Regions from separate parts of the Homo sapiens genome. Here regions 1, 2 and 3 are each linked to region 4. The links come from fine-mapping of genetic effects on gene expression. A gene starts in region 4. Each other region holds a variant in brackets. All regions are shown on one strand. Distances are from middle to middle.

Region 1 (8,105 bases), 350 kb before region 4:
TGGGCATGACAAGCCCACCAGGGAGCCCTGGATATCCCTCCTCTTTCCAAGCAGCTGGGGAAGCTGGTTGCCCTGGAAACCTGTTTTAGGTGGCAGCATCTTCCTCCAGGAGGTCGAGGTGTCTCCTGGACCTTAGAGACTCCAGGACACAGGACAGAGCTCTGAACTGTGGAGCCGGGAAACCTGGTTCCAGTCTCAGCCCAGATTTACCAGCCGTAGACTTGGCCAAGTCACTCACAAAACCCAAAGGGTGAGGCAGAGCTGGCCCTGCCTGCATGGCAGGGAGATTTTGAGAAGCATGAAGAGAGTCAGGAAGTGCCTGGGGATCGAATCCACCCAGCAGTGCAAGGCATTGCTCTCCCAATTCTCCATTGGGAAAAAAAAATCCAGACAAAGACAGTACAGAGAATATGGTAGCCAATACTGCAGCAGTCACCACCCGGAAAAACAGACACTAATATAATAACTTGTGATTTTTGCTTCATATCTCTGTGGCATAAAACCATGACACATAAAGTTTATGTCCCCCTTTAACCATTCCTCAATGCTATTCCCCTCCTCTCTCCCCCTCCTCAACGGCAACCACTGATATGTTCGCTCTATTCTGTGCTTTTCATATTTTAAATATATTGTTTATGGGAATGATCATATATAAGAAATATATTATACTGTTTGTTTTAAAAGTTTGCATAAATAATATCAAAGTAAATTATTTAAGTGTCCCCAGCAGTCCCTGTCCCCGTCCACCTTTCCCTCAGTTCTCTTCCATCACAGTAAAGAAAACTGCCCAAACCTGGTCACCGCCCCTGGACTTTCGAAGTGGCTTCCTACTTGGGGTCCTGCTTCCAACATTGGCCCTGTGAGTGACAAGGATCTCATTCCTTTTGTGCTCAAAGCTCTGGCCTCTCTCTCCCTCCTTGGCCTTGCCCAGCCCAGCCCCACCCCTGTCCTCAGAACCTCACACCTGTCGTTCCCCACCTGGGGTGCCCTTCCCGCTGGCTGGCCCCTCACCTCTCTCAGATTTCTGCTCTAATGACAGTAACTGGAGAGGCCTTGCCTGAAGTCCCCTCCTCTTTCTCCTTACCTTGCTTTTTGGTTATGCATCCTCCTCCTAATTGCTTTATTTATTTATGTGTTTAATCACCATCCTCTTACTTTTCTAAGGCTCGTCCTGATTTTTTTCACATCCTGGTATCTGAGCCGGCAGTGATTCTATACCTGGCAGCAGCCTGTGCGGCAGAGCTGTGTGTAAAGGGGTCCATGCAGAGCCCTGGGAGAAAGAAAAATGAAGGGGAAAAGGTTGACCTGAGCTTTTTCACCTGGGGCTGGAAAGTGGACCAGAGCCTATCATTCCAACCTGCAGGTGCCTAAGGCCCAACAGAAAGTTCACCAGGAAAGACCAAGAGAATTGGGGTGACCCTCCCACAGTATCAGAGGGAAGGGGAGTGGGGAGGAGTACAGCAGTGCAGACCAGCCCCACAGGTGCTTAGCCAGGCCTTTGGTTCTGCCAGGGAAAGGAGGGTGCCTTCCACAGCATGAAAACTACACCACGTCCCAATGTGTCCGGGACCTGCCGCCAGCCGCCTGCACAGTAGTCAGGTGGATGCCACCGGGATACAGCCCACACTGACTCCTGACCCCAGGGGGTACAGCCCACGCTGACTCCTGACCCCAGGGGGTACAGCCCACGCTGACTCCTGACCCCAGGGGGTACAGCCCACATTGACTCCTGACCCCGGGGGTTACAGCCCACACTGACTCCGGACCCCGGCGTGGGAGGGGCTGGCCCGAGATGAAATCTCGAAGGTGGGTCAGGCTAGGTCCTGGAGTCAGGGGAAGCGTGGGGTTCAGGCCAGGCCTGGGTTCTCCCTGAAGTGAGGCTGACTCTGAGCCTTTCTTGAAACCCCAAATGTCACAGCAGTGCCCCGAAGGTAGGTGAGGCTCTGTTGCAGGGAATGCTGAGGAAAAAGGGAACATCAGGGATTGGTCTGGCCTGAAGCCTGCACTCCCCTAAATTATACCCTGGTATGATTTGGGCTTGCCCTGGAGTTACCTCAACTAACCTGGGGTCCTTGGGGGAAACAGAGATGGACAGGGTTGATGTATATTTCGGGTTGATTTGGACTCTAAGGATTATCCCAGCTCAGACCTCGCTCTCAAGGAATAGGAGCCTGGCATCTGTCTATCACCCCCTTGGCCCTGGGTATAGTCTGGATGAGCAGAGGCACGCGTGTGGCCCCAAGAGTCCCACCCTCTGGCTCTCTCCTCCCAAGACATTCTGGAGCCATGACATGTCTCCCAGGAAGGGAGAATTATTTTTGTCTGTGGCATAAATAAAGCCAGGAATGAGTTCCAATAATCACAAGCACATGCCAGCATGTGGAGGCTACTCTGACAGCAGCAGAAGGTTCCAGCACTGCCTGCCCTGCTGGTCCTGGCTGCAGGGAGGTGACCGGGATGGTCAGGGGTCGGGAGCAGGAGGGAGCCTCCAGGATTTTATTTAAAATGATCAGGTTTTTCAAACAAATGGAAAAATAAAAAAATCTTGAAAACAAATCTTTTAAAAATTTACCCACTTCACTCCAGATCTTAAGAAATAAAAATAAAACATGACTATTCCTCTAGAATCCTGACCCATACCATACAACTCTCTTCCCAGAGGTCATTGCCAACATCGATTTCTATTTATTTTTCTCATGCTTGCTTTAATATTTCTACTATATATGTATGCATCTATAAATAAACTCTATGTGACATTGTTTTGTGTTTTAAAATCCTTTGACTTTTTACTGTACATATGATTCTGCAACTTGCTTTTTATTTTAGAAAATTAGGGCAAAAAACCACATAACCTAAAATTCACCCTCCCAACAATTTCTACTTGTAGAGTACAATATTGTTAACCACACTTAAAGTGTTGTGCAACAGATTCCTAAGCCCCCTTTCCCCTCCTGCATGACTGAAACTCTGCACCGACTGAAAAGCAACTCCTCACCCCTACTTCCCTGGCTTCTGGCAGCCACCATTGTGTTCCTGTGAGTTTGATTACTCTAGACACCTTTTACAAGTGGCATCATACACTTTTTGTATTTTGTGATTGGCTTATTTCACATAGCATAATATCCTCAAGGTTCATCCACTGAGTAACATGCAACTGAATTTCCTTCCTTTTTAAGGATGAATAATATTCCATTGTCTTTACAGAGCACACTTCTTTATCCATTCACCCATTGATGGATATTTACGTTGCTTTCACCTCTAGGCTTTTGTGAATAATTCTGCTGTAAACATGGGTGTACAAATATCTCTTAAATATCCTGTTTTCAATTCTTTTGGATACATACCCAGAAGTAGGATTGCTGGATCATATGGTAGTTTTATTTTTATTTTTTTGAAGAATCTCCATACTGTTTTTCACAGTGACTACAACATTTTGCATTCCAATCAACACTGAACAAGGGTTCTAATTTTTCCACATCCTTGCCAAAATTTATTTTCTGTTTTTTGTTTTTATACTAGCCATCCCAATGGGTATGAAGTGATATTTCATTGTGGTTTTGACTGAATTCCTTAGTGATTAGTGATGTTGGGCATCTTTTCATGTGTTTGTTGGCCATTTGTATATTTTCTTTGGAGAAATATCTATTTAAGTCCTTTGCCCATTTTTAAATAGGGTTATTTGGGTTTGTTGTTGTTGTTATTGAGTTGTAGGAATTCTTTATATATTCTGACTATTAACTTTTTATCAGATGTATCATTTAAAAATATTTTCTCCCATTCCATAGGTTGTCTTTTCACTCTGTTAATTGTTTCCTTTGCTGCAGAGTTTTTAAGCTTGATGTCATCCCATTAGTCTATTTTTGCTTTTGTTGCCTCTGCTTTTGGGGCTACCTCCAAGAAATTCTTGCCAAATTCAATATCATGAAGTTTTTCCCATATGTTTTCTTCTATGACTTTCATATTATACTTTCAGGTCTTTAATTCATTTTGAGTTAATTTTTGTGTATAGTATATGCAATTTGGTTTTTAAACTTATTTTGTTTTTGAGATTTACCCATGTTAGTACAAGTAGCTCCAGCTCAACACACGTTGCTGCTGCTGGAAACCCCTGGTAATGTTAGTTATCCACAAGTCGTTCATTCATTTGTAAACTCTTTACACACAGTGCTGTGATGAGTGTTCTCTAAGGTTCCTGTGCACATATGTGACAAGCAGAATCATGGGCCCTGAGGTTGCACTTCTTCTGTATTAATAGATAATCCCCAATTGCTATGCAAAGGGGTTGTAGGCACTGGATATATACCAACTTCTGTAAAGACTGAAGAAAAACTCCTTGTACTTCTGGCCAGGGAGAAGAAAAGTAACCATTTAAAAATACACCAGAACATTCTGTTCTTTTTAACAAGGCTTCCCCTCAGGAGAAACTATTTAGCCAGAGCCTAACCAACAT[G/A]GAGGAAGGAAAATATCAAATTCTAGCCCACGAATTAATTTCAGACAAAGTAGACTCCAGAGAAAGGAAAATTATCAAAATAAAGAGAGACATTATGTAATGATATAGGGTCAATTTTCCAAGAAGACATAACAATTCTTAATGTGCATGCACCTAAAAGAACTGACATGAGACAAAATGTGTGAGAGAAAACTGATAAAAATCCAAGGAGAAATAGATAAATTCACTTTTATATTTGGAAGCTTCAACTCCCCTCTATCAGTAATTGACAGATCCAGTAGGCAGAAGATCAGTAAGATATAGTTGAACTGAACAACAGCATCAATCAACTGCATCTAATTGACATTTATAGAATACTTCATCCATTAATAGCAGAATACACATCCTTCTTAAACTCACACAGAATTCACCAAGAGACTGCATTCTGGTTTATGAAGCGCACCTTAACAAGTTTAAAAGAATAGAAACTGTATAAAATTTGCTCTCAGATGACAGTACAATTAAACTAGAAATCAGTAATACAAAGACAGTGGGAGAAACCCCCAATTACTTGGATAAAACGATCCACTTCTAAATGGCACAGAAGTCAAAGAAAAAGTCTCAGGAGAAATTTAAAGATATTTTGAACTAAGTGAAAATGAAAATACAACCTATCAAAATTTGTAGAATGCAGTGAAAGCAGTGCTTAGAGGGAAATTTATAGCATTAACTGCATATATTTGGAAAGAAGAAAGATCTAAAATTAATAATCTAAGCTTCCACCTTCAGAAATGAGAAAAAAGAAGAGCAAATTAAAATCAAAGTAAGCAGAAGAAAACAAGTAATCAAAATAAATGTAGAAATGAAACAACTTAAAATAGGATATCCTAGAGAAAAAATCAATAAAACCAAAAGCTGGTCCATTGAAAAGATGAATAAAGCTGATAAACATCTAGTCAGGTTAATTAAGAAAAAAGAGAGAAGATACAAATTATTAATATCAGAAATAAAAGAGGACTGCCACTAATCTCGTGGACTTTTAAAGAATAATAAAGGAATATTATGAAAAAGCCTATGCCCACAAATTTGATAAGCTAGATGAAATGAACCAATCCCTTGAAAGGCACAATCTACTAAAATGCACACAAAACCTACACAGAAATAAATATATAATCTGAATAGGTCCATATCTATTAAAGGAATTGAATCAGTAATAACAGAAAGCACCAAGCCCAGATGGATTATTGGTGAATTCTACCAAACATTAAACAAAGAAACTCTGCCAATTCTCTACACTCTTTTCCAGAAAACAGAAGCAAAAGGAATACTTCCTAACTTATTCTGTGAAGCTAGGATTATCCTAATACAAAACTAGACACAGACATTACCAGAAAGGAAAGTTAGCAACCAATATCTCTCACAAACCCAGATGCAGAAATTCCCAACAGGCTAAGCATGGTGGCTCACTCTGGTAATCCCAGCACTTTGGGAGGTTGGGACAGGAAGATAACTTGAGGTCAAGGAGTTTGACATCAGCCTGGGCAGCACAGTGAGACCCCGTCTCTACGGAAAATAGAAAAAAATAGCTGGGCATGGTGGTGCATGCCCATAGTCCCAGCTACTCAGGAGGCTGAGGTGGTAGGATCACTTGAGCCCAGGAAATCAAGGCTGCAGTGAGCCATGTTCACAACACTGCACTGCAGCCTGAGTGACAGAGTGAGACCCTGTCTCAAAAACAAAACAAAGCAAGCAAACAAACGAAAACCAAAAGAATAAAAGGTAAAAATTAGAAATCTTCAACAAAAGATCAGCAAATTGAATTCAACAATGTATGAAGATAATTATACACCACAACCAAGTGGGATATATTTCCAGGTATGCAAGGCTGGTTCAATACTTGAAAGTCAATTAATGTAATCTGTCTGGTCTAGCTGCTAAAATGCCACAACTGGGTGGCCTAAACAACAGAGATTTATTTTCTCACAGCTTTGAAGCCTGAGGAGTCCAAGATCATGTGCTGGCAGATTGGGTTTTTGGTCAGGGCTCTCTTCTTGGCTTGTAGGTGGCCACTTTCTTGCTATGTCCTCACATTCCTCGGTGTGTGTGCATGGAGAAAGAGAGGGCATGCTCTCTGACGTCTTTTCTTACGGGAACACTAGTCCTATCAGATCAGAGACCCTTCTGATTTTATTTAACAGTAATTACTTTCTTAGAGGCCCTATCTCCAAATACAGTCACACCAGTGTAAGGCTTCAATCTATGAATTTTGAGGGGACACACACATTTAGCTCATAACATAATACAATACATCAATAGGCTAAAGAAGAAAAATCTTATGACAATATCAACAGATGCAGAACAATATTTGACAAAATCCAATATCCATTCATGATAAAACAAAACAAAAACAACTCCCAGCAAACTAGGAATACAGGGGAACTTCCTCGACTTCATGGAGAACATCTATAAAAAATACAGAGCTAACATCAAATTTAATGGTGAGAAACTAGATGCTTTCCCACTAAGATCAGGAACAAGCAAGGACATCCCCTCTCATCACTCCCATTTAAAGTAGTACTAGAAGTCCTAGTTAATGCAATATGACAAGAAAAGGAAATAAAAGGTATGTAGTTTGGTAAGGAAGAAACAAAATTTTCTTTGTTCACAAATGACATAATTACCCCAAACTCCTGGAGCTAATAGCAATTATAGCAAGGTTGCAGGATGCAAGGTTAGTATACAAAAGTCAGTTTTTTTTAATATACCAGCAATGAACACTTGAAATTTAAAACTAAAAACAAAATGCAACTTACATAAGAACTAGAAGAGAAAGAAATATGTAGGTATACATCTAACAAACTATGTACAAGATCTGTATGAGGAAAATAAGAAAACTGATGAAATAAACCTAAGAAAATCTAAATAAGTGGAGAGAGATTTCACATACATGGATAGAGAGTGTTTTAGTTTGCTACGGCTGCTGTAACAAAATACCACAAAATGGGTGGCTTAAATAACAGAAATTTATCTTTTCACAGTTCTGGAGGCTAGAAGCCCAAGATCAAGGTGATGATAAGCCAGGCACTGTGGCTTATGCCTGTAATCCTAGCACTTTGGGAGGCCAAGGTGGGAGGATCACGGGAGTTTGAGGCCAGCCTGGGCAACAAAGTGAGACCTGTCTCTACAAAAACAAATGGAAAAATTAGCTGGGCGTGGTGATGTGCTCCTGTAGTCCCAGCTCGTTAGGAGGCTGAGGTGGGAGGATAGATTGAGCCTGGGAGTTCAAGGCTCCAGTGAGCCATGATCACACCACTGCACTCCAACTGGGGGAAAAAAGTGAGACCCTCTTTCAAGAAAGGAAAAAAACGTGTTGGCAGGATTAGCTTCTCCTGAGGCCCCTTTCCTTGGCTTGCATATGGCTATCTCCTCCCTGTGTCCTCACATGGTTTTCTTCTCTGTGCATGTGCATCTCTGCTGTCTCTTTCCTTGTGTCTTAATCTCCTCTTCTTATAAAAACACTAGCAGATTAGGTTAGGGTACATTTCACCTTAACTACCTCTTTAAATAGTTCCATTTTAACTTTAAGGTCTTATCTTTAACTGTCCTATCTCCAAATATAGTTACATTCTGAGCTACTAGGATTTCAACATATGAATTTTGAAGGTTGGGGGACGTA
Region 2 (8,105 bases), 200 kb before region 4:
CATTGCCCAATGCACACAGCCAGTCAATATGCCCAGACACTGGGTTGCAGCAGAGAAAGAGGTAGGGTCACCAAATGAGATGGGAAGGAACCCCAAATCCATTTTCCTGAGGAGTTTAGGGTAAGAGTTTTTAAAGGTTTTGAAGTGGGCCAAGGTGTGGAGATCCTTGATTGGTTGATGAGTGCAGGGTGAAGTCCTGGGGCAGGGCGAGATGAAGAAGCTGTATTCTCACTCTGATCCACTGTTCTGAAAAGCATATTAAGTGATCTTTATGTCAGAGATCCTGTCTATGGGAACAATGCAGATGCAAATTAATTCTTAAGCAGCCTTAGGACCCTAATGCCAGAAATCCTGTCTATAGGAACAACGGGGATGTAAGTGGTCAGAATCCAGTGCTGCACGGCTTTCAGCAACAAGGAAGTGGGCAGAAGTGCACGCTGAGTAATGCTTCATTACAATGATATTTCTGTCCAGAACCCGGCATACAATTTGTCAACACTATGGGGACAGTTGCAGTAACGGAGTTGAGATTACGCCCTCCAACCCTGTAGCTCATACTTCACATTGGAATTCTCCTCAAAGTGCAGAGGTGTGCATTTTGTGGGGATATGAGGGAAAAGCTATCTCTTGGGTAAAGAGGGGAGGCCCGCTGGGGGTCGGCAATAGGATGAGGTAGCACAGCAGCCTTGCTCCCCACCACCCCAGTAGTCAGAAAAAGCCCAGCCTGAAGAAAAGTCTCAGAGTCCGCTGAGACAATGGAGGGGACTCAGCAGGTGACAAAGCCCCACCCTGCCCAGCAGCAGCCACAGAGTGCTGTCCCCAGCAAGGGAGGGAGGGCGCTGAGGCTCAGGGGACCCAGTGGGACGAGGGATGCAGCCTTCCCATCTCCACCATGCCCCCCATTTCATGGACTTTGGGACCCTCTCAAGGTCCATATGGCCCAGTGGCCAGCAAGGCTGTTTTCAGAATGCAGACCCAGTACAGATGCGTCACCAGGAGCCTGTGCCCTGGCCTGTCTTGACTAGCGACCCCCTTAGTCCTGTCAGCCCTGAGAGACTCCAAGGCAAGCCTCTGGGGGCTGAATCTAACAAATCAACCATCTCCCCAGGACTCTATCATGAGGCTGCACATTGGGTTCCCCTCCAACAGAACATTTTTCCCCAGAAATCACAGGATTAGGCCTCCTAACCTTCTCTCCCTAAACTGCCATGTCCAGGTGTTACTTGTAAGCTGACCATCAACTGAACCATAGTCATGAGAAAATGTGGATTTATATGTAGATTTGCTTGCAAGAGAAGTTGGGGGACCCCGACCAGGGACCAACAGTTTTGTTCCTGTGCTTCTGCCTGACCTGTGTCCTTGTCCAGTGCCTTGGCTCTCCTTCGTGTCTGCTGCAATCTCACTTAGGCAAAACTGTGGCTCTTTTACGCGGCCCCATTTGGTCTCTGGATGAACTGGGATACGATACTTTCATAGTCACATCCATTAGCAGGGACGGCTGCCTCAGTGACAGGTGTGGGTTGGGGGAAAAGCACACACTTGAGTGGCAGAGCCGGCTACTGCTCCTCCCAGGCACTTGCTCCCTCTTTCCTTCCCTGTCCTCTGCTCTGGAACTTCATAATCCTGAGCCACAATTGTGCACATCAGAGGAGAGATACAGGAACTAACAAAAAAGTGGCCCAGCAGTTTTGTTCCAGAGAATTGAGTTTAGAGCACAACGCCTCACCTGGGCTACCACAGTGCCCTAGAAAGCTGTAGATGGATACAGGATGTGATGGTGAGTTTCATGCATCAGCTTGGCTAGGCTATAGGACCCGGTTATTTAATAAACACTAATGTGGACGTTGCTGTGGAGGTATTTGTGGTGTGGGTCACATGTACAATAAGCTGATTTTCAAGAGATTGCCCCTGATCATGTGGATGGGCCTCATTCCGTTGATCCCCCTAAGAGCAAAAACTGAGGTGTCCCACAGAAGAAATTCTGCCTCAAGACTGCAGCCTCAACTTCTGACTTCAGAGCTGCTACCCCGCTGCTTTGAGGCCGGAGGCCCTGCTGGGCCCAGCCTCCTGTGGCTGAGTGTCATCTATTGTCTCACGCTCAGAAGGACCCCAGCCCCATCCAGAAACCAAACACACCCTGTGGTCAGTCTCAACTCAACCTGCCAACCACCTAGCTGTGATTCTGTCCTTCTCACTATGCTTATTACAAACAGGTGGACCAGGCTATAACTGGGCAAGATCTGCTGATGGCTTACTGCTGACTGAATCAGGCAGGGGTGCCTGCTCTTAAAGGTGTTTCTTTTTAGTGAGATCATGGCCTTGGGTGTGAGGCGAAGGAATAACTAGGGGCTAGGGAGCAGCAGATCCAGGTGTGAGGCCCAGCCCTTATGTTTATTGCCTCTGTCTTCTCACCTGTAAAATGGGTTCACAACAATAAGATTACTCACAGTGTTGCTTTGAGGCTCAAAGAAGGAAAGGTGTGTGAAGCATGTTGAGAACTATGAAGAAAAATACCAAGGTTAATAATTAATTAAAGCATTTTTACCACTTTCCATCGAACTATTGAGAACAACAAAAAACTTTTCCAAACTGTGGCTAAAAGCAAGAGGTCGGTCTCTCCTCTAACGTTTCTTCTTTGATTCCCAGGCTTTTGCATTTAGCCCAAAATAGGCTCCTTGGTGCCCTGCGTTTTAAGTAGGAAGTGACCAAGTCACTGACTTCCCGGAATCTGTCTCTGCCAACACAGGCCATAGAGTCCTTAACAACCCGCCTGTGAACAGTTATTTATAGTGTTCACCTCAGGCGGACACCACTTTTAGGGCAGCAGGGAAATGAGAACATCCGCTAAGGGCGGTTTAGATCGATCTGTTTTGCCCAGCTCTGCTCAGCTGGGAGAAGTCTGCTGTCTGCTCCACAGCCCCTCCACTTCAGAGCAGGTAGTCGTGGCTTGCACTGTGGGCTGTTCCCCCAGCCTCTACACAGCTAGAAGACAACCTCTTCCTGTTCACAGAGCTCTAGAGGGGGACAAGGGAGTGTCAGCCTAGCATCTGTGGAAAAAGAGTTCAGGGAGGCTGCAGTGAGCCATGGGAAAACCTAGGTCTCTTCCCTGCTAGTGTGTGACTTCCAAGACCTCTGGCTTCCCCTCCTAAGTGACGGTGGCATGCTCTGCCTGCGTGTGTCATAGAGATCCTAAAACCTCCCGTGAACAAAGACTGGTACACAGGCGGGTAACAGTGTTGCTATTATTCTTTCTTCAGTAATATGACCCAACACAAGCAAAGAAAGAGACAGGCAGGCTGGCTTCACGGCTAGAGTTGCTGAAGATGACCACCGCAGGAGGGAAAGGAATCACGTTCATGGTTACTTGTCATCAGTGCAGAGTTCCCTCCCAGTGTGTTAGGACAAAAGGGAAGAACCTCTGCAGTTGAGAAGCAAGGCACAGATAAGAATCTTTGGATTTCTTCGGTTAGGTACTAAATGCCTGGAGTGCGGCTTTTTCTGCCAGCAGCTGCGTCCAGTCATTTGTGGTGTTGAGGCCAGGGTAGCGGCCCTGTCCTGGGAGT[C/T]GGCCTCAGTCTTTGGCTTTGGCTGTAAGGCACACTGAGAGAAACTAGGCTGCAGGCCGCTCTTCTCTGCCTTAAACCCCTCTGGGTGGGGCAGCTCTCTCGAGAGCAGTCATTACTGCAGCTGTGTGAGCTGCAGGGTGGCTGAGCAGAGGAAAGGGAGGCACGATTGCTCACCCCTTGGGAGGCGGCACAGGTCACAAGAGAGCTTTGGAGTTGTACAAATCTGGGTTCCAATCCTGGATCTCCCTTCTTAGACATTCAGACCACCTCTCTAACCCTCGGTTTCCTCTTCTGTGTAGTGGTGATAATCCTACAGGCCTCAAGATTTTGGGGACACCAAACGAGAGCACAGAAAACCAGTGCAGGGGGGAGGGTGCTGGTGCAGGGTAGTTGGTGAGTGAGCATGACCCTCAGCACCCCTGACTCCACCGTTCACACCTGAGAACGTAGGGCCGGAGATGACTTTGCCAAGACTGAGCACCAAGCAAGAAGCACGGCTGCGGGAAACGCGGCATGCTCAGGCATCCACAGTCTTTAAGCTAAATGACATCTTACTGAGCGCTCCCTTCCACAAGACTCCGTGTTGGGAACTGTGCATGCGAGGGATCTAGGTTGCCTGGGGGAGGTGCTCTCCCCTCACCTTCTTCAGAAAACAACTTCCAGGTTTAGTGTTTAGAGTAATTTTTTTTAAATGTACAAAAAGTGCTTTGGTGTCCAAAAAAATGTGTTGAATTTGAAAAGATTCAGATGGCATCCATAATCTTCATCCCCGCCCTTCCAGCCCCGGGCTTGGTACCTCTGCAGGGCATGCCCAGGGTGGTTGGGGACTGGCACAGGTCTGTGGCCCTGGGGGTTGGGGACCCCTGCAGTAGGGTCCTGAGACTTTGTGAGTCGCTGGGCTGCCTGCAGGGCCAAGGGGCATAAGCAAATCTCCATCCTGGCATTGGTGCAGGTGAAAAGGAGGTGTAAGTCCCTGCTGCAAATGGAGAGGACACAGATATGACACAAATGGAGAGAGACAGTGAAAATCACCGAGAGACCAGGCTCTGCCCGGGCTGGCCATCTACCAGCCACCCAGCCATGGGATGCTGGACAGTCCTCAGGCTTCTCGGGGCCTCTGTTTCCTCACCCAGGAAATGAGCTCAGGCCAGAGGGACAGTTTTCAGGGTTTTCAATTTTTTTTTTTAAAGCAGCAGAAACTTTTCTTTAAAATAAACCATGAGCAGAGCCCCAGTACATTAAAAAAAAAAAAAAAGTAGAATCTGCCTGGTGGAGTGGAAGTGGGGACCCAGAGGCCTTGTGTGCCTTGACCCGAGGATGTGTTGTTGGGGCCGCACTTTCAGAGGGGCACCCAGCACCCTATATTGGGCCCACAGGTCTACATCTGTTCCCATGTCCCAATTTAGCTGTAAGTCCTTGCAGGCAGGGGCTGTCCTAGAGCACTTGGGGTGGCCAGAGCCCAGCCCAGCACCCTGCTCACACGCTCTGGTGACATGTCATTAGTAGAGGCAACTTGCGCAGGTCTGCAGCAACCTCCATTCTTGCCTCCTCAGAAGAAAAAATTCGACTGAGGGGCATAAGGCAGAAGAAAAGACCAAGGCAAGTTTTAGAACAGAAGTGAAAGGAAGTAAAGTACACTTGGAAGACAGCCAAGCAGGCAACTTGTGAGGTCGAGTGCAGGGTTTGACCTTTGATTTGGGGTTTATATGTTGGCACGCTTCCAGGGTCTTGCATTACTTCTCCTCTGATTCTTCCCTTGGGGTGGGCTGTTCGGGTGGGCTGTTCCCATGCGCAGTAACGGTGCTTGAGAGCGGGGCATGCACAGTGTGTTTACTGGAGTTGTACACATGCTCACTTGAGGCGTTCTTCCCTTACCAATCTGGCATTCCTAGAGGAAGGTCATATGCCAGCTAAACGCCTCCATTTTGCCTCTTAGTGCGCATGCTTGAGCCCACTCACCCAATCCCCTGCAACCTTATCGGGAAGCAGCTGATCACCAGCTTCAGGTGTTTTCTGTTTATTGGGAGACTGCCTTTCCCTGGTGCTGGCTGTGCCCAATTATTATTTTAGAGAGACAGTTAACAACAACCTGATCATCACCTGATGGTTGTCTGACATTCCTGGTGTGTGTGTTGGGAGAGCCCCTCCTGCCCTGCTCATGCCTGGCTAGCTACCTCCCTCATCAGTACTGCAGTGGGAAGAGGCAGCCGGTAAGTCGATGAGAAGTGCCTCCTCTGCAGCAGGGCTTTCAGTCTTGTACACTTCACGGGGTGGCCGGTTTTCTATTTTTCCAAAGACTGGTATTAAAATAGACAATTGTCCCTACTGCAGTCACCTGCAGTTATTCAAATAAAGGGCATTTTGGCAATAGTAAAATGGCTTGGCCCTTGGGGACCACTACTCTAGAGCCACTTCCGGTCATTTGCTTGACCTTGTCATCTGCCTGTCTTTGCAAGTGAGTTCGCTTTAGGCTGACCTTTGGTCCATGGTGGTCCAGGTCTGCCTCCTCACAGCCCTCAGGCGTGGCTGGCTGTGACTCATCTGAGCCTGGAGTGTTGTCCTCTTGGTGGGCACTGATCACTGTGACATCTCTGCCTTTGGTCCAAAGTCCTGTCTGTACTTTAATAGAATATGACTACTGAATCTTGACCTTTGGCAAGAGAGGCCTGGGGTGATTTAAAGTAAACAAAACAGCCCTTACCACCAGAACCTGCCCAGGGAGGCAGGGACAGAAGTAAAGCAGTGTTCTGTCCTCAAGCTGGTGGCGACACAGAAAGAAAGCCAGAAAAAGCAGCCCCACAGTGTGTTAACTGAGTCCTCACAAAGTGCTGCAGGAACCCATTGGTGGAAAGAGTTCCTTGACTAGCGTTGAGGGAGAGGATGTGCTTGTGAGGGGACCAGGGAAGGCTGCTTGTAGGAAAAACAATGTGATGGTCCTTTCATTTATTAACTTATTTATTGATTTATTTTGTAATTACAACTTTACTTTAGATTCGGGGGGGGGGTGGTGCATGTGTAGGCTTGTTTACATGGTGGGCATATTGCATGATGCTGAGGTTTGGGATACGAATGATCCTGTCAGCCAGGTAGTGAAAACAGTACCCAGTAGTTTGTTCAACCCTTCTCTCCTCCCTCCCTTTCTGCCCCCTCTAGTAGTCCCTAGTGTCTATTCCCATCTTTATATCCATGAGTACGCAATGTTTAGTTCCCACTTGTGAGAATGGCGGTATTTGATTTTCTGTTCCTACGTTAATTCGCGTAGGATAATGGCCTGCAGCTGCATCCATGTTGCTGCAAAGGACATGATTTCATTATTTTTATGGTTGCAATGGTTCTTAAAGGCTGAGGAGTCTGCCAGGCTAAGTGGAGGGGACACCCAGCAGAGGAGGAAGAGCAAGTAGTGGCATGAAAGACTGTCAATGTCAGTAACTTTGGGAGAATGTGTCTATATCATTTTTTCAACTAGACCATTTTCTTTAAAGTGTGGTGAAGGCGCCACTCATAAATATCCTGTCTGCAGAGCCCTTAGACCTAACTGTTATATGTACATGCCAATTTGCTGCCAGAAACTAGTTTTGGTGGCCTGCACTTTGCAAATGACAGGCCCGTCACTGCAATGTGGCAATGGAGGTTTCAGGTGGAACCAGGACACTTGGAGCTATTTTGACAGAAGCCTTTTCTCCCACAGGAGGCCCACCTTGGCAGTAGTCCTGAAGGTAAAAAGAACTCTGGATTAAGGTGTCTGTATGATTTTCTGTAGACAATCAGGGTCTTGGGCTGCTTGTGGGAAGTTTCCTGGAATGGCACAATCAATTCCAGGGCTCCACCTGAAGCTTCAAGCCCACTTTCCAGGATATGTAGCCCTTCTGCACATAAAGCACCCTGCCAGGCATTGCAGGGCGTCTGGGGAGAAAAGGTCCTTGAAGAAGACTCCAACCCCATTCTCCAGTAGGCTGGGATTCAGGAAGGGCTGGAAGACAGGAGTGAAAGTAAGCATTCCATGCAAGAGGTCCAGAGTCCAGTGAAGACTCAACGGCACTTCCAGTTTGTAAACGTGGAAAGAAAAGGGAAGGCAGGGTGAGCTCTGGGTGTTGAAAGAGATTGGAGTGGGCCACAGGGAGAAAGGGGGTGGAGAGGAGTGCTCCAGGTGGAGTGAGGGAATGGTGGGAGTGAAAGTTCATAAACAAGGATAGAGGGAGAGCTTTTCAACCTCCTGGAATTGCCAAGTATCTTTCTCCTAAGGGCTAGGAACTCCCTGGCAGCCTGACTTCTTTAGGAGATCCCTCCACTGAATTCTCCACGCACCTTCAAAATCAGTCCAGTCTGAGGTTTAAATGGTAAATCATGTGATTGAATCAGCAGCAACAGACTGGCCAGGAACACCTTTGGAATATGCAGTAGAGACTGCCCTGCATGACCTGGGGTCTCTGGGGCAGATGGTTCAGCCCAACAGCATTCAATGTTGCACCCTGGCTCTTGAATAAGCACTGAGTTGATGGTGGTGATTCTGAAGGGCTGTTATGGATTGAACTGTGTCTGCCC
Region 3 (8,105 bases), 240 kb before region 4:
TAGGCTGCGTGGTATAGCCGATTGCTCCAAGGCCCCAAACCTGTGCAGCATGTTACTGACCTGAATACTGCAGGCGGTTGTAACACAAGGGTAAGTATTTGTGTTTCTAAACATATCTCAACACAGAAAAGGGACAGTAAAAATACAATACAAAAGATAAAAAATGGTCACCTGTAGAGAGCACTTACTGTGAATGGAGCTTGCAGGACTGGAAGTTGCTCTGGGTGAGTCAGTGAGTGAGCGGTGAGTGCATGTGAGGGCCTAGGACACTACTATACCCTACGGCAGACTTTAAAAACTCTAGACACTAGGGCTACTATAAATGTACTTTAAAATGTTTTTCTTTCTTGAATAATAAATTAATCTTAGCTTACTATAACTTACACACTTTATAAACTTTTTCTTTTTTAAGACAGAATCTCACTCTGTTGCCCAGGCTGGAGTGCAGTGGCCTGATCTCAGCTCACTACAACCTCCACCTCCCAGGTTCAAGCGATTCTCGTGCCTCAGCTTCCTGAGCAGCTGGGATTACAGGCGCCTGCCACCACGCCCGGCTAATTTTTGTATTTTTAGTAGAGACGGGGTTTCAGCATGTTGGTCAGGCTGGTCGGGAACTCCCAACCTCAGGTAATCTGCCCACCTCGGCCTTCCAAAGTGCTGGGATTACAGGCATGAGCCACCATGCTGAGCCTTTATAAAATTTTTAATTAAAATTTGTTTTTCTCTTTTTTAATAGCACTTAGCTTAAAACACTAACACATTGTACAGTGGTACAAAAATATCTTCTTTCTTTATATTCCTATTTGATAAACTTTTTTATTTACATTTTTTTAAAGAGATGGGGTCTGGTTCTGTCGCCCAGGCTGGAGTGCAGGGGCACGATGACAGCTCATTGCAGCCTCGAACTCCTGCGCTCAAGTGATCCTCCCACGTCAACCTCCCGAGTAGCTGGGACTACAGTTGCATGCCACCACACCTAGCTGTTTTTTTTTTTTGTAGAGATGAGGTCTTCCTATATTGCCCAGGCTAGTCTCAAACTCCTGGCCTCAAGCTATCCTCCTGCCTTGGCCTCCCAAAGTGCTGGGATTATGGGTGTGAGAACTGTGCCCAGTCAAAAATTTTAATTTTTTATTTTTCTTTCTTTTTAAACTTTTTTGTTAAAAACTAAAACATAAACACACACATTAGCCTAGGCCTACACAGGGTCAGAATCATCAATATCACTGTCTTTCATCACCACATCTCATGCCACTGGGAAGTCTTCAGGGTAATAACACGCATGGAACTGTCATATCACATGATGAAGATGCCTTCTTCTGGATGTCTCCTGAAGCACCTGCCAGAAGCTGTTTTATGCTTAATATTTTTTTGTAAGAAAAAGGAGTACACTTTAAAATAATCATAAAAAAATGAGATAGTGTCTTCATTAATTTGTGTTGCTATAAGGTAATACCTGAGGCTGGGTAATTTGCTTTTTTAAAGAGGTTTATTTGGCTGTCTGTTCTGCAGGCTGCATAAGAAGTGCAGTGCTGGCATCGGCTGAGCTTCTGGCTGTTTCCAATCATGGTGGAAGGTGAAGGGGCACCAGCACGGGCAGACTACCTGGTGAGAGAGGAAGCAAGAGAGAGACGGGGAAGGTACCAGACTCTTTCTAACAACCAGCCCTCAACAGAAGGAATAGAATGAGAAACACTCATTACTGCAAGGAGGGCACCAAGCCATTCGTGAGGGATCCTCCCCCATGACCCAGACACCTCCTATTGGGCCTCAACATTGGGGATCAAATTTCAACATGAGGTTTGGGGAGACAAACATCCAAATTATAGCATATAGTAAATACACAAGGGAGGAATGTCGCCATTTATTATCATTATCAAGTATTATGTACTGTACACACTTGCATGTGCTGTGCTTTTATGTAACTGGCAGCACAGTAGGTTTGTTTACACCAACATCGCCCAAACATGGGAGTCATGCATTGAACTACAATGTTATGACCACTGTGACGTCACTAGGCAAGAGGAATCTTTCAGCTTCATTATAATCTTATGAGACCACTGTCATACATGTGGCCTGTCATTGACAAAACATCTTTATGCAGTGCATGACTGTATAGCTCAATATCAGCTAGAGGGCTGATATGTGATGTCTATTATGCATAATTTAATGATACTTATGTGAACAGTTCATTCTATCTAAACACAGCCAAAATAACACACATTCCACAGGAGACTGGAATCCCGTGCTGAGGCCTTGGGGACCCGAGAAGCACTGGGCTTTCTAAGAATTAAGTAGTAAAGATCCGAAGGAACCTCTGGGCCAAGTCTTCCCTCCACGCATAACTGGGTGCCTTTCCCCAGACCTCCAGCTGGCTTGCGGCACCCAGCTCTACCTCCTCTGTCAGATGGCCTGGGTCGCCCTTCATCACTTGCTCCAGCTGAGCCAGGTGGCCCCTCCCAGCCTCCCTGCTCCAGTTCCCAGCTCAGGAGAAACCTCTACTGCAGAACCTAGAGCTGTAAATATCTGTGCACATGGTTCTCATCCTGATGAAACTGTTGGCTTGAGCAGCATTCTTCAGAATGCTGAAGGGCCCATAGTGTGTGGTGATCAGCATGAAAGAAGAGAACATATCAAGATGCGTCACGCATGGTATGGACCAGCTTGTTTTGTAGAACTTTTGTTTCTTCTGTCTGTGCAAATGTGTGTTTCTGTGTGTCTGTATATGTCTCTGTGTGAATGGGTGTGTGCAAATGTGTGTTTGTGTGTGGGTCTGTGTGAGTGTGTGTGTGAATGTGTGTGTCTGTGTATTATGTGTCTCTGTGAATGCGTGTGTGTCTGTGTGGATGTGTGTGTGTCTGCATGTGTCTCTGTGTGTGAATAGTTGTATGTGCGCTGGATCACCACGTAAAAGCTATGTCTTACGGTATATTGTGGATTATGATTTTAAAAGTTGAAAGCCCTGATCTAGAGGGCTGGCATTTTCCCTCAGTGCCTACAATGTGTCTGGCTTCAGCAGATGCTTGTTGGATAAGTATGTGAGTTAACGTATCAATGAAAGAGTTAAATTGATAGCTAGGGAGAGTAGTGCTGATTCCTCTCAACTTCTTCTGCTCCAACAACTTCCAGTCCCTTCCCCCACTGGGCTGCAACCCATCTTCCCATACACTAACTGTCCCTTCCTCCACTTCCCCTGCAGGAGGGGGCCCCAGCCCCGACT[G/T]GCCTCATCAGCGCACTGACCTGGTGCTGCACGAGGGAGGATGCAAAAGCAGAACCCTCCCATTTGGGTATCTACAAAGCTGAAGACCCAAACTCCACTGCGTGCTGCGGTGGGTGGTGTGGCACAGAGTGGTGCCTGGCACCTGGTCCCTCCACTAAGCATCGGCACCCCTCACTTCTGCCCCAGCCCTCTACCTACCCATCCCCGACTCAACTCCTGCACAAGGAGCAGAACAGCATCCTGGAATCCACGCTGTGCAGCCCCCTGGCAGACACACACCTGCGCCCTTTTTTCCTTCCTTTGCCAGGTGTCTGACCCCACTGGGCTCAGGAAAGGCGGAAGCTCTGCTAGGGGTGAGTCCAGAGGCTGACAAGCTGGTGCTTCATAGCAGTGAGTTTGGAAGGTGGCCACTACAGTCACCATCTGGAAATGCAAAGTGTCCCCGAGATGGTCACTTCTCAGCTAGCTCTGGGTGGAACCCAGAGGCTGTGTGGTGTTGTACCGCACCTGAAGGTCGCCACAAGCTTCCCTCCAGAGAAAATGCCTTGATGGGTCTCACTTGTTACTCTGCTTTCCCTCCAGGGAACCTTTGGGAACTGAGCCGGAGTCAAACATTTGGCTGAGATTAGGCATTGGGCCAGACTCACTCCTGACACGCTGCGTCAGCAAATCAGGGCAGAGCAAAAGCGGCCGAGGCACAAGTGAGGCCAAACAACCTGGAAGACACTGAGCAGAGAGAAGGCGGGCTGCTGGCTGGGACATGCTTTTCCAGGGTCCCTGGAAGAGCTTTCCTTACTCGGGGAAAGAGTGGAGGACATGGAGATTTGACAGCTAGCTGCTTAGCAAGGGATGGAAGCAAGCTTTGGGAACACAGATTGTCTGGGGACAGGAAGCAGAGAGCAGGGCTGGCCAGTGAGCTTCCCTGGGGCCATCCACATTCCTGTTAGTTCTGAGGGTAGCACAGCTACCTCCCATTTGTCTTGTTGCCTGCTGCACGTAGCATATAGGCTATGTGCAGACTAGGGCACACTTGGGCATTCAGTGGCTTGTAGTGCATGATTGTTGATTGAATGAAGGACCTTGTAAGTGTCTTTAGGAAGAACTTCTAAGCGCTCTCTTGATGCCAGAAAGCAGAATTCCAGAATTGTTTCCAAGTAAAGCAATTAACATGTAAATTTAAAACAAACAAACAAAAAACCTAAATGTCACAAGAGGCTCTAATGGTCTTACTAATTGGGCACAAAATGAGGGTAGGATTTCATTCCTAAATCGCCAGTGTTTATACTTCACTCCTGGCACATAAGTGCACAATGAATGTTTAATGAACGAAGATGCTTTGATTTCCAGGGCTAAAGAAAACCTTCTTCCTACTACCTTCATCTCCCACCCTGACCCACCCCACCAACACACACGCACCCTACACCATACCCATACACCACACTGCACACCATAACACACACACTCCCCACGGCATAACACACATCCCACACCCCACCCCAAAAAACACACACCATCACACACACAAACAAAATACACACCCCACACCACAGTACATATCCCACACCATAACACGCACATTATAAGACACACACTCCACATTCTAATACACACTTCACATCTTAACACACACCTCATGCCCAACACATTACATACACCCCCCCCATACCACAACACATACACACACGCATACCCCCACCACAGCACACACACACCTTCCCATAACACATAGGCACATACCTCTCACCATAACACACACATTCCACATAATACACATATACATCCATACCCTAACATACACACACACACACAACACACCATAGCACACACACACAAACATACCTTCCCCACATACAAAGCTTTCAAGGCCTGAAAATCTCTAGAGATATTTTCTTTTAAATTGAGGCCTTGACCCTTATATAAAACCTCTGTACGTTTGCAGATAAAGTCTCCTTATCCGTTACAGTCAAGAATGAATGTTCGCCACACTCTTCCTTGCGGGCTCCTTTAGATGAAGGCCAGGAAGAGAGCAGATGTGGGTGTGGAGTGGGTGAAGAACCAGGCAGGAGCAGGTGGGGCCAGCACTCCCTCCCCGTTTCCTCTCCCTTCTCCTCTCCTCCCCCAGCCCTGCGGACCAGAAATCCAGGGGACAGTGGAATGATCTTAAGGAGTAAGGAGGCGATCCTGTCATCACAGCCCTAAAAGGAATCAGCTTAAAAAGAAAAAGGTGTAATTTACACGGAAAATCCACAGCCTTTCAGAAAAGGACAGAAACGAAGAAAACAAAACAGATTTAGATCACAAGCTTGGGCGTGGGTTTTCCAGTGGCAATTCAATTAGAAACAAAAAGCACCTAAGCCAGTAGGTAGGTGTTAGAGCTGCCTGTCGGAAACAGGGAACACCATTTCTTGGTGCCAGGTATCACAGAGGAATAAGCAGCGGGGCTCAGAAGTGGGATTCAGATTCTTCTGTGTGAAATGTGACCTATGCTTCTGATTAGCATTTAAATATAAAAATAAAAATACCTGGGTTTGAAGAATCACAGACATGGATGGCGACCCTGAGACCAAGGGGTGAGATGACTCTTCTGAGACTATACATATACTGCACGCCGTCACACACACACACTACATCATAATACACACACATGGGCTTCCACCCTAGCCTCAATTTGCAGGCCACATGCATGTCTGTCTTCTTCATCCTAACCATCTCAGGATGTCAGGGGCAGTCACAGGACTGGTCTGTGTTTGGGAAGATGGTGCCAGTAACTGTGTGGCAGGTTTAGAGAAATCACTTATTGATGGTCTTCAATGACAGTACGTCTGAGCAGTGTTTTATTAATAGAGCTTGGACTGTGGTATGAACAACTCTCCATCGGGGCCATGTCTTCAGGACCACACCACAAGACACCACAGGGACAACCAGATGCTGCCCAGCTGGGAGAGGAGAGTCTGTGGGAATAGACAGGAGTCCCCCAGGAGCTTCAGAGAAACTCTCCACAAGCCCAGCACTGCATGCCACCTGCAGAGAACCAAACTGCTACCGGAAAGCCAGGTCTCGAGCTCTGAATAAATTCCATGAGGGCATCTTTCAGAGTGTCACTTCAACCTGGGCAGGTTACTCATCTCTGAACTCCACGTTTTGGGTGCTGTCTATGTCTTTAACACGGGAGCAACTTAGGGCTCTCAGCCCTAAAGAATCCTGGACAAGTCTCTGTCATGGCACCCAGAACCAGGCAAAGCAACGAAAAGGCATTTGGAACGAATGAGTGAATGAGTGAATGAATGAATGAATGAGATAATAATGTATTTATTGGGAGGCCGAGGCGGGCAGATCACGAGGTAAAGAGATCGGACCATCCTGCCCAACATGGTGAAAACCCGTCTCTACTAAAAATACAAAAATTAGCTGGGCATGGTGCGGGCGCCTGTAGTTCCAGCTACTTGGGAGGCTGAGGCAGGAGAATCACTTGAACCTGGGAGGCAGAGGTTACAGTGAGCCGAGATCACGCCACTGCACTCTAGCCTGGCGACAGAGTGAGACTCTGTCTCACAAAAATATATATATATATATTTAATCTCATCAGATGAACATATATTCATCTCTCAAAGCATCTCCTGCCTGCCCAGTAAATGACCGGCATGATGGTCTGCAGCTCTCCTTTCCCCACATGGGTGACAGGGAACTAATGAAACCCAGAAATGGAACTAGGCCATGAGCAGTACAGGAGGCTTTTGGACATGAAAATCAGGTTTGGTGTGTGCTGTGTGCAGTGGGCCAAAGAGAGGGAAGGGGAGGCGGCAGGGACAAGGAGGTGGGGAGGGGCAGGTGGGAGGCAGGGCCCTCAGTGCTCCCTGTGCAGATGAATGCAGGCCTCCAAGAGCACAGCGGGGCACACTGTCTCCATCCCTGGCCCTCCGCTGTCTCCAGCATTTGGTTCCCCCTGGCTGGAATGGGGCATAAGGAAGGGAGCATAGGCAGGAAGCCCAGAGCTCTGAAAAAGGACAGAGGCTTCCGAGCCTAGGCAGGGCTTGGAGCCATGTACATGTCGGACTACTATAGAACTAGCGCCCTGGGGCCTCAGGAACATGGGGGCTCAGATGACAGTGGTTCAGCCCCTTCCAGTCCTGTGCTCTTGGACTGGGCTGGAAGCTGAGGCCAGGGAAGGCAGGGAGCAGAGCCCAGGCCCAAGGGAGGGCAGGAAGTCAGGAGAGCTAACTCCCTGGCCAAGGTATGGTGTGCCATAGCTTTTGTTAGGCAGAAGAGGCCTGGGCTTGCCTTTCTGTGTCTTCTAAAGCATCTCGTCATGGACGCCTTTCATTCCCCACTGGGCTCTTTCCCTGGTGTCTCTTTCCTTCTTGTCGATTCTCTCTGCTCAGTGACGGCCATGTGTCAGCTGGCCAAGACCACTGGGGTTTATGGGGCAGCCTCTCTTCTTTTCTTTTTTTTTTCTTCCTTTCTTTTCTTTTCTTTTCATTCTTCAGGAGGGTCTGCACTATCTCATTCTTTTCATTCTTCAGGAGGGTCTGCACTATCTCATTTAACTCTAACAGCACAACATGAGTTGCCCCATCGTACAGATGGGAACACTAACATTCTAAGAAGTGACAGCCCAAAGTCACGCAGGAGCAGAGAGAGCAAACTGAACCCCAAAGTCAATGCCTTCCAGAGTGGGCTGCTTCCCCTCTTGGGCCACACCTTTTCCCACGCTCCTGCTCCCTGAAGAGCCTTTCCCTCCTCTCATCTCTGGCTGTCGTGGGTGTGAGGCTCCCTGGGCTTGTCTTCAGCACCGAGAGTGAAACCAGGTGTTTTCAATAAGAGATTATTAGGTGAGACTCAGTTGAGGTGCAGCCAGAGAGCCCCTCGGGAGAAAGCTGGAAGAGTGGTT
Region 4 (8,105 bases):
TTTGATTTTTCTTTTTTTTTACCCCCAAGAGATGGGATCTTGCTCTGTCGCCCAGGCTGGAGTGCAGTGGCACCATCATAGCTCACTACAGCCTCAAACTCCTGGGTTCAAGCGATCCTCTCACCTCAGCCTCCTGAGTGGCTGGTGGCTGGGACTACAGACAGTGCCACCACACCAGGCTAATTTTTTTATTTTGTAGAGATGATGTCTTGCTATGCTACCCAGGCTGGTCTCAAATTCCTGGCCTCATGCAATCCTCCCACCTCAGCCTCCCAAAGAGCATGAGCCACCACACCCAGCCTGATTTTTGTTTTCTACAGACAATACAATACGGACAGTGCTTGGTTTTTCCAAGCTGAAGTGCTCCCAAGCTATGGCCTGCACCAGCCCGGTGTTCCTTGGAGATCAAGGCTCCACGGTCTTATGTCATCTTCAGGTTTAAAAAATAAGATCTGTCCTTAGCTCTGAATCTGCTGTCCCAGAGTAGGTGAGCAACTTGGAAGCTCTGGCGTAGATGAGGCTCTGGGGGGCAGTGGAAAGCCAGTGCCTTCATAAACACAGATAGTCATGTGATGGCACCTCAGAAAGTGAAGGGGGCACTTTCACCTGCCTACAAAGTACCCCCGGAACTTTGCTGAACTCTAGAACATACTAGAGAGACAAGTTCATTAACTATCACTTTGCCAAAATCAAGTACCCCTGGGTGTTCACAAGGCACAGCCTGACTTCAATGACTCGAGTACCCACCAATGGGGGCTTCTTCTGGGGAACACAAAGAGGGAACCCTACACTCCCTGGCTATTTCCTCCAAGGGCCCAGCCCTCGAGACAAGAACCAGCGTTCACAGTTTGGATAGAATAAGCCCAGTTAGTTCATCCCTCCAGCTTAGGACTGCTCTGACAAATGTATCTGTGCTTCAAGTGATGGGGCTGGTCCTAGCGAGTCAAACCATAGCTCAGGAAGGGAAATATTAACCCTTACTGATGTAAATTCCATCTTTTTCTTGAGCAAATTTCTTCAATATCTGACTCACTGGCCTTTAATAAAACGATTATAAGACATCACTAACTTAGTTTGGGAAATGATGACAAAGCATCACTGAAATTTTTTCATAAAAACCAGGGAGTAAGTAATAGAAACTCCTACAAGAGCTGTTCTTGACACTGCTTCCTCCCTTGCCTGGTTACGCAGAGCTGGGCCAAACCCTGCTTTATTAGTTTGGAGGTATCTTCCTCTGCTTCCTGCCGGCCAATAACCTGGCCCCTGCCCACCCTCAGAGAAGGGCCAACAGCAGGGGTGGGTCCACTTCATGAGGCTTTAGAATGACCCAGTTACTGACTGAGGGAATCAAAGGTTATTTGGAAATCTTTAAAAGGCTGTTTCCTTTCCCAGCACTGAGCTGTAACGTGATACTGACCTGTCCGGCAGTGTCACAGAGTTGGAGTCTCACGGGCCGCCCATCCACAGACACCACCGCTTAAAAACAAAACCAAAATGACAATCAGGAGGTGTCTTTTAACCCCTTTCGGAATACTAATAGTTTTAGCTTTCACTATCATTCTCACTCCAAACCCCTTTGCTCCTATTTTAGGTCCTCTAATGAATTAAAGACTAGCCAAAAACAAGGAGGCCCTGTGGAGGCATTTTTGTATACAAACCCACGGCTGGCAAGTCACTCCATTACCGTGAACCAGGCAGCAAATCCCTGAACGCTTTGATGGTGACCCTAAAAAGGCCTATGCTTTTCTCCCAGTCCTGGAAGATTTATTTTCCTGTCACACTTGTTTCAAAGGACCTAAAAACAACACTGGGGGTAAATGGGAAGCAACCCTGCAGTTTTAAATCAGTGGAAAACCTCACAAATAATTCTGTTTTCCCTTGGGAAAGGTTCCCCAACTTCAGGGTTTATCATACAATTCTAGTGTGTTTTGAGAACATGTGCAAACACAGGCTGCCCGCATTGTCCTGTTTAAGAAATGAGGGCACTCCTTATCTCTATGTCAGGTCAAAAGGAGGATTAAAAAAGAAAAAAGAAAGCCATGGCCCCCTTTCCACTGGGATCCGGGGACTCGGGGAGTGTGGAGAGGCCTGCAGCAGGACATGTTGTGGAGGTTTCTATTTTAATTAAGCAGTCAGTTTTGTCTCTTTCTACACAACTTTCTAATTGTTTCTAAATATTTATACTAGTCAGCTGCAGGGGTGGGGTGGGGGGAGGGGAAGAAACAATACCCTGCGGTGGGAACCCACCAGTACAGCACCCATTTCTCTAAGGTACCTTTGGGATGAAAGGAAGGTCAGAGAAGCAATTTTTTTTTAAAGAAGCAAGACAGTTAAGTGTTTCATACTAGTTTCTGTGAATTTTAACTTTTTCTTAAATTTCAAAAAGACCTGAATAGCAAGATAGAGAATTCCTTTCTCTTTGTATCTACCAAGGGAAATGGCATCGCACCCGGTACATAGGAGCTTTAAGTAGCTTAAAGGGATCCTGAAAAGATACCAACAATCAGAATCCGAGCCCATGTGGGCAGGGAAGGTGGTGGGGCTCAGAAGAAAGAAATGGTGTTTACTCTTCAGGTTTCATCCAAACCTAAGCCTTCACGAGGGCCGCTCGCGCTTTTTCACTAAATCAAGTGTTTTCCCGGCGTCTCCGCGGCTCTTTAAAGCGGAGACGCCCCTTGTGAGCTGAGCCGCCTAAAAGCAAAGGAGCGACGCTCAGGTAAAGGCACCTGCGCGTCACCTTCTGATTGAAACTCTGCAGCGGCGCCAGCGACGTCGCCCTCAGGAAACTTTGCTCTATGCAACAAACTGACCGGGCACCCTGAACTCAACCTGTTTCACTCCTACTTATCTGTTGCTTAAATTGTGAGATTTTTTTTTTTTTTTTTTTTGGCAAGGCTCTGACTGCCGCTCCGCCCTCCTCTCTCCAAGCCCACTCCGCCGTGGTCCTTTCGTGTTAGCTCCGCGCTTGCCCGGTCCCTGAGACTCAGGAAACGTCCTGCACTCCTCATTTGTCCGGCTTCCCAGCTGGAGCCGCGCCCGGGGCCCTGCAGCCCCCTTGGGAACCTCGCGACCCTCGCGCCACCTTCCTTCCCCTGGGTGGACCGCGGCCACGCGCCCCCGGCCCCGGCCCCCCGGCCAGCTCACCGGAGAAGTTGTCGAAGGCAGTAGGGATGTACTCGGTGGGGTAGCCGTTGGTGGTGTAGCTCACCACCAGGCTCGTCTTGCCCACCGCGCCGTCGCCGACCAGCACGCACTTGACGCCGCGCCCCTCGGCACCCCCCGCACGCCCCCGGCCCCCCGGCTCCCCAGGCCCGCGTCCCCCGCGTCCACCGCGCTCCCGACGCGGCGGCACCGGAGGCGCCTCGCAGCGGTCGGGGAACGCGGGGTCCCCCTGCTGCGGGGGCATCGATCCGCGAGCGCGGGCTTGCGGTCGCGGGCTAGCAGGGCCCGGCCCGACCGCCCCTCCGCCCCGGAGGGTTGCGGTAGGGAGGAGCTGTCACCGACAGCTGCGGGCGCGTCCCCGGCCCTGGAGAGTGGCGGTTCCGGGCCGCACGGCCAGTAGACAAAGGCGGCCAGGGAGGGTCGTGGCTCCGCGCTCCGGCGGCGCCAGCCGCTCTGCCCTGCGCTGTTGGAGGACAGCGGTCCGAGCGCCGTGGATCCCAAGCGCTCTGTCTCCGCCCGGCTTCCCGGCGACACGACGCGTGGGGGGCGGGCAGGCGGGCGGGCTGGCGGGGAGGGAAAAGAGGCGGGTCTGGCCGAGCGGCTCGGTCCCCGCGCCAAGACCACAGCGCCCCCCGCCTGCGCGCCGCGCGCCTGCACCCGCGCCCGAGGCGCCGCCGCGACCAGGCGGGGACTGCGAACACTGGCGCGGGAGGACCTGGAACACACGTTCCGGGGGACCCCGCGCACCCGGTCCGGGAAGCGACGCCCGAAGGAGCCGGGCCAGCCTCCGCAGCCTCCTCCCCAGCTCCCAAGAGGGTGACCACCGCGCGACTGGCCCGGGAGGTTCCGCTTTCTGGCGCCCACGCGAGCCAGGAAGCCTGAGCCGCCTCCTATTCACTCCGTGGAGCCCCCGGCTGGCCACGGCTCCACCCAGGGGGAAAAATGAAGTGTCCTGGAGGCCTGTCCTGCGAATGAGATTGAATTAACAGACAGCTTTTTTCCTTAAGTCTAACTGCAGCTGATCGTGTGATTTTTTCTCATTTTGAAGCAAAAGGATGCCAGCTCCATTGTGAATGCTCCTTTGACTTTGTCTTTCGGCATGCCGTGAACCTTTATACATGTATGCTCCAGAAATTTTTTTATACCCCCAATTCCTTCATTTACTTAAAGGTAATTCGGAGACATTAATATGTCTGAAAAAATATTCCGTTTCCCTTTGATTCATTTCTCTCTCTGCCTTCCTTCTACATGTGGTCAACAGTCTATTCAGAAAAAGGACGCCTCTTAGCCAAGTCAGAATACCAAGAGTCCTGGGGGTGTACAGCGTGGTGTGAGAAGGGCCACATATTATTAATACACATTGATACTAGTGGTAGTAAAAATAACAATAACAAATACTGAACTTTCATAATGTGTCAGATACTGTTGTAAGCACTCTTCAAGAACTAATTCTTTTAATCTTAACATTACTTACAGATGAGAACACCTGAGGCACAGAGATATTAAGTAACGTTTTGGGATTCCACAAGCTAGTAAGTGGCAATGCCAGGATCCAAACCCAAATAGTCTAGCCCCAGAGCCTGAGCTTCTAACCAAAATCCTGGAGGCAAAAATAAGTCAGTATGATAAACGTAATCTTGAACGTATGGCCATGGTCAGAATGCAGAGATGGATTTATCAAGAAGTTAGAAGCTTGAATCCAGGACCCCTGACTTGCAAAGGACACTTTCACATTGGAAGACCTAGCAATGTGTACACGTGGTAATATGTTTCTGTAAATTTTGAAAAAAAAAAAAGTATTTTAATCACCACCAGTTATGTTCACTGTCTTTTTAAACTGTAACTTACCCTCATATTGAGTGACTTTGAAGAGGCCATGAAGATTTTGGGGATCAGCCAAAGAAAGTGAAGTTGGGGAGACCCAAACAGGTTGTTTGGGTGTAATGGGATACAGAATCAGGATGAAGGTGAGATAAGGGGGATGTCAAGGATGCAAAATTTATGACAAATTGAGCATTCAGAGGCAATATCAAAAAACAACAAATTTAGAGGGCCCTTACTCTCAGGGTCAGGCAAGTGCCAATGTTAAGTTTTGAGCCTCAGGTACCTGACTTGCCTCTCCCTCGCCCTGGCTGTGATGACAGGATATATTTATGTGGTTTACAGTTCTCCTATGTAGATATGTTGTTGCTAGCCATCCAGGTATAGGAATGGCTACCACTGACATACCTATGACCCTCTGTGAGAGTCACATTGGTGCCCTTAACTGTCTTACTTTCCCCAACACTAGAAGGGTTCCAGTAGCAAGAGTAGCAGAGCTTGAGATGGGCAGAGCTGGAAGCTAGTCTGGCAATTCTTTCCATCATAAAGCACCTAATATCGGCTGGTGCGGTGGCTCACGCCTGTAATCCCAACACTTTGGGGGGCTGAAGCAGTCAGACCGGTTGAGGCCACGAGTTCGAGACCAGCTTGGCCAACATGGCGAAACCCTGTCTCTACCAAAAATAAAAAAATTAGCCAGGTGTGGTGACTCACACCTGTAATCCAAATACTCCAGAGGCTGAGGTAGGAGGATCACTTGAGCCTGGGAAGTCGAGGCTCCAGTGAGCCCTTGATCAACCAATATACTCTAGCCTGGGCGAGAGTGAGACACTGTCTCAAAAAGAAACAAACAGAAGAAAACACAACATTGTTAGAGAAGGTTTGGTTCTCTCTACTAAACCTGATCAAAACAGAAGTTGTCTGCTGTCAGAAATGTACCTGTACTCTAAATGCAGCAGATACACTTACAAATGCATCATACATTTTTGGAGAAAAATCACATGAAATGAATGATCTGAATTCCCATGTTTGTAAGGACATGAGGCTGTAGTAGTACAACAAAAAGCAAGTTCACCTGTGTGTGAAGTAACTTCCTATTGTTCTTATAGAAAATATCTTACAAAACTGAAGAAGTGATCAAAGGGTATGCAACTGAAAAATGAAAATAATGTCATAGAAGTGTGTCAAGCAGTTTATTAAAATGTCATGTCTTATGTATTTTGTTTAAGTTTATGGTGTTTGTTAGCCTTTTAAAATTTGTAACTTATTGTGATGCATTTCTCACTTTAAACATTTGTTTTTGTATCTAATTTTCTATTCTTAATTTTGTATTTTTTTTTCTTAATGAAGTCTCACAAATGTGATAAGCCTCAGGCCCTACAAAACTTGGCTTTGCCCCTCCATCTGGCCAGCTGTCAGTTTTTGTGTCCTGTGCGTCCCCCTCTTGCTTTTCCCCTTCTCATGCTGAATATCATCCCACGCCCACTCATTTGGGCCCGTTTTTCTGGACACAACTTAGTCAGCTCCCTGCATCCTTATCTAAAATGCCGGGAACTAATGTTTGCCCTATTCATGAGACTCTTCTGTAGGCAACATAGGAAATCAGACCCCACGCCAAACAGTTCGGTATTTCATCCAAGTCCAAAAGCAGAGAGATGACAGAATGCCTACCACTTTACCCCTTTACAGAATGCCTTTACTTTACCCCTTTTTACGTTGAACTGTCCCGCACCCACTCATTTGGGTCCATGTTTCTGGGCTCGACTTAATCAGTCCCCTACAGCCTTATCTAAAATGCTTGGAACTAATGCTACAAGAAGCCCTCCAAGGTGTGTGGGTTCAAGTTGTATGATATATTTGTTTGTTTATTTGCTTATTGTCTGTCTCCTCTTACAAGCTCCATGAAATCAGAAACTTAATGTTGCTCATTCCTATATCCCACACTTAGAAGCACGTGGGGCAAGTAGTAGGTGCTTAATAAATACTTAAGCAGTGGTAAATACGTAAGTGAAAGGAAAACATGTTTTGAACTTGACGGTTCTGCAAAAAAGAAAGAAAGAAAAGGAGAAGAATGTAAAACATGGACTCTCAAAACATGGACAGTTGTATTTTTATGCTTTTATAAAATATTTTTAGAATGAATGAAGGAAATTTGACCACTTCTTGCAGCTATTAATAGAAAACCATGTCTTTGCTCAGTTTTAAGACAAAAAATGCATTACACCTCATGTATTCCCATTTGTTTTTCACCAAGACAGTACAACGCCTTCATTGTGCAGTGGGCCTAGAAAATTCTGAAAACTGGGTGCAGAATTTCCGTTCTTAAGATCTTGTCTCTCTGAGGCCCTCCAGCCCAGCTGTGAGCATTCATCCCCCCTACCTACCCCCAACACCTCCTCCAGGACTTCCAGCAACCCACCCCTGGGTCCCCAACAACATGTCAGAGAAGGTGTCTTCTCCTCGAACTACAGGTCTGTAACCCCTTCCTCCTTCTTCCATGAACTTGCTCTTTCTCCGCTTAGGTGTCACCTCCTCCAAGGATGTTTATTTTTCTGCCTAATTTTCTATACTTAATTTTGTGTTCTTTTTCTTAATGAAGTCCTCAAAATGTGATAAGCTTCAGGCCCGACAAAACTTGGCTTTGCTTCTCCATCTGGCCATCTGTTCGTTTTTGTGTTCCATAGCCTCCCTCTCTTGCTTTACCCCTTTTTATGTTGAACTGTCCCACACCCACTCATTTGGGCCCATCTTTCTGGGCTCAACTGAATCAGTCCCCTACAGCCTTATCTAAAATGCTCAGAACTAACGCTTGCCCTATTCATAAGAATCTTCTACAGGCAACGTAGGAAAGCAGACCTCCACACCAAACAAATTGGTGTTTCATCCAAGTCCAGAAATGTTCCCTGACCCCTTATGTGGATATATTTGTGCTTGTCCCTATCACAGCCCTTATCTAGTGAAATCATCTACTGATTATACAACACCTACCCTTGCTCATAATCCCCTAAAAGGGAGGATCCCCAGTTCACAAAACTCTTCCCCTAGCACAGTATTAATACATTTTCTAGGATTTTTTCCATCAAGTTATTTTAACTGTTCCACTAGCAAATAATTAATAGTGA

Which allele goes with the higher level. Alleles are on the strand shown, and positions count from the first base shown. SD is a standard deviation of normalised expression in the study named. Not every link is listed here.
For the expression in tibial nerve of the gene that starts at base 3,670 in region 4, allele A in region 1 goes with a higher level than allele G (moderate effect, 0.41 SD a copy in GTEx).
For the expression in atrial appendage of the gene that starts at base 3,670 in region 4, C is the high allele of the variant in region 2 and T is the other (small effect, 0.20 SD a copy in GTEx).

Evidence for each region. PIP is the estimated chance that this variant, and not a neighbour inherited with it, causes the effect.
Region 1: its variant is fine-mapped to the expression of RHOU in tibial nerve (GTEx, PIP 0.96).
Region 2: its variant is fine-mapped to the expression of RHOU in atrial appendage (GTEx, PIP 0.95).
Region 3: its variant is fine-mapped to the expression of RHOU in whole blood (TOPMed, PIP above 0.99).

What each region holds. Positions count from the first base shown.
Region 1 is chr1:229,081,754-229,089,858 of GRCh38, reverse strand. It overlaps LINC02815 (long intergenic non-protein coding RNA 2815), which reads left to right. Exons shown (of 5, transcript NR_186727.1): 5 at 1-2,759. Among named protein-coding and RNA genes, the nearest start is that of LINC02815, 69 kb to the left of the region's middle. RefSeq lists an enhancer at 1,085-1,803. The variant G/A (reference allele first, on the strand shown) is at 4,451.
Region 2 is chr1:228,933,465-228,941,569 of GRCh38, reverse strand. All of the region lies in intron 2 of LOC124904539 (a long non-coding RNA gene), which reads left to right. Among named protein-coding and RNA genes, the nearest start is that of RHOU, 200 kb to the right of the region's middle. The variant C/T (reference allele first, on the strand shown) is at 3,564.
Region 3 is chr1:228,974,674-228,982,778 of GRCh38, reverse strand. No RefSeq gene overlaps it. Among named protein-coding and RNA genes, the nearest start is that of LINC02815, 180 kb to the left of the region's middle. RefSeq lists an enhancer at 2,884-3,490. The variant G/T (reference allele first, on the strand shown) is at 3,218.
Region 4 is chr1:228,731,044-228,739,148 of GRCh38, reverse strand. It overlaps RHOU (ras homolog family member U), which reads right to left and starts at 3,670. Exons shown (of 3, transcript NM_021205.6): 1 at 3,145-3,670; 2 at 1,418-1,476. The coding sequence starts at 3,406.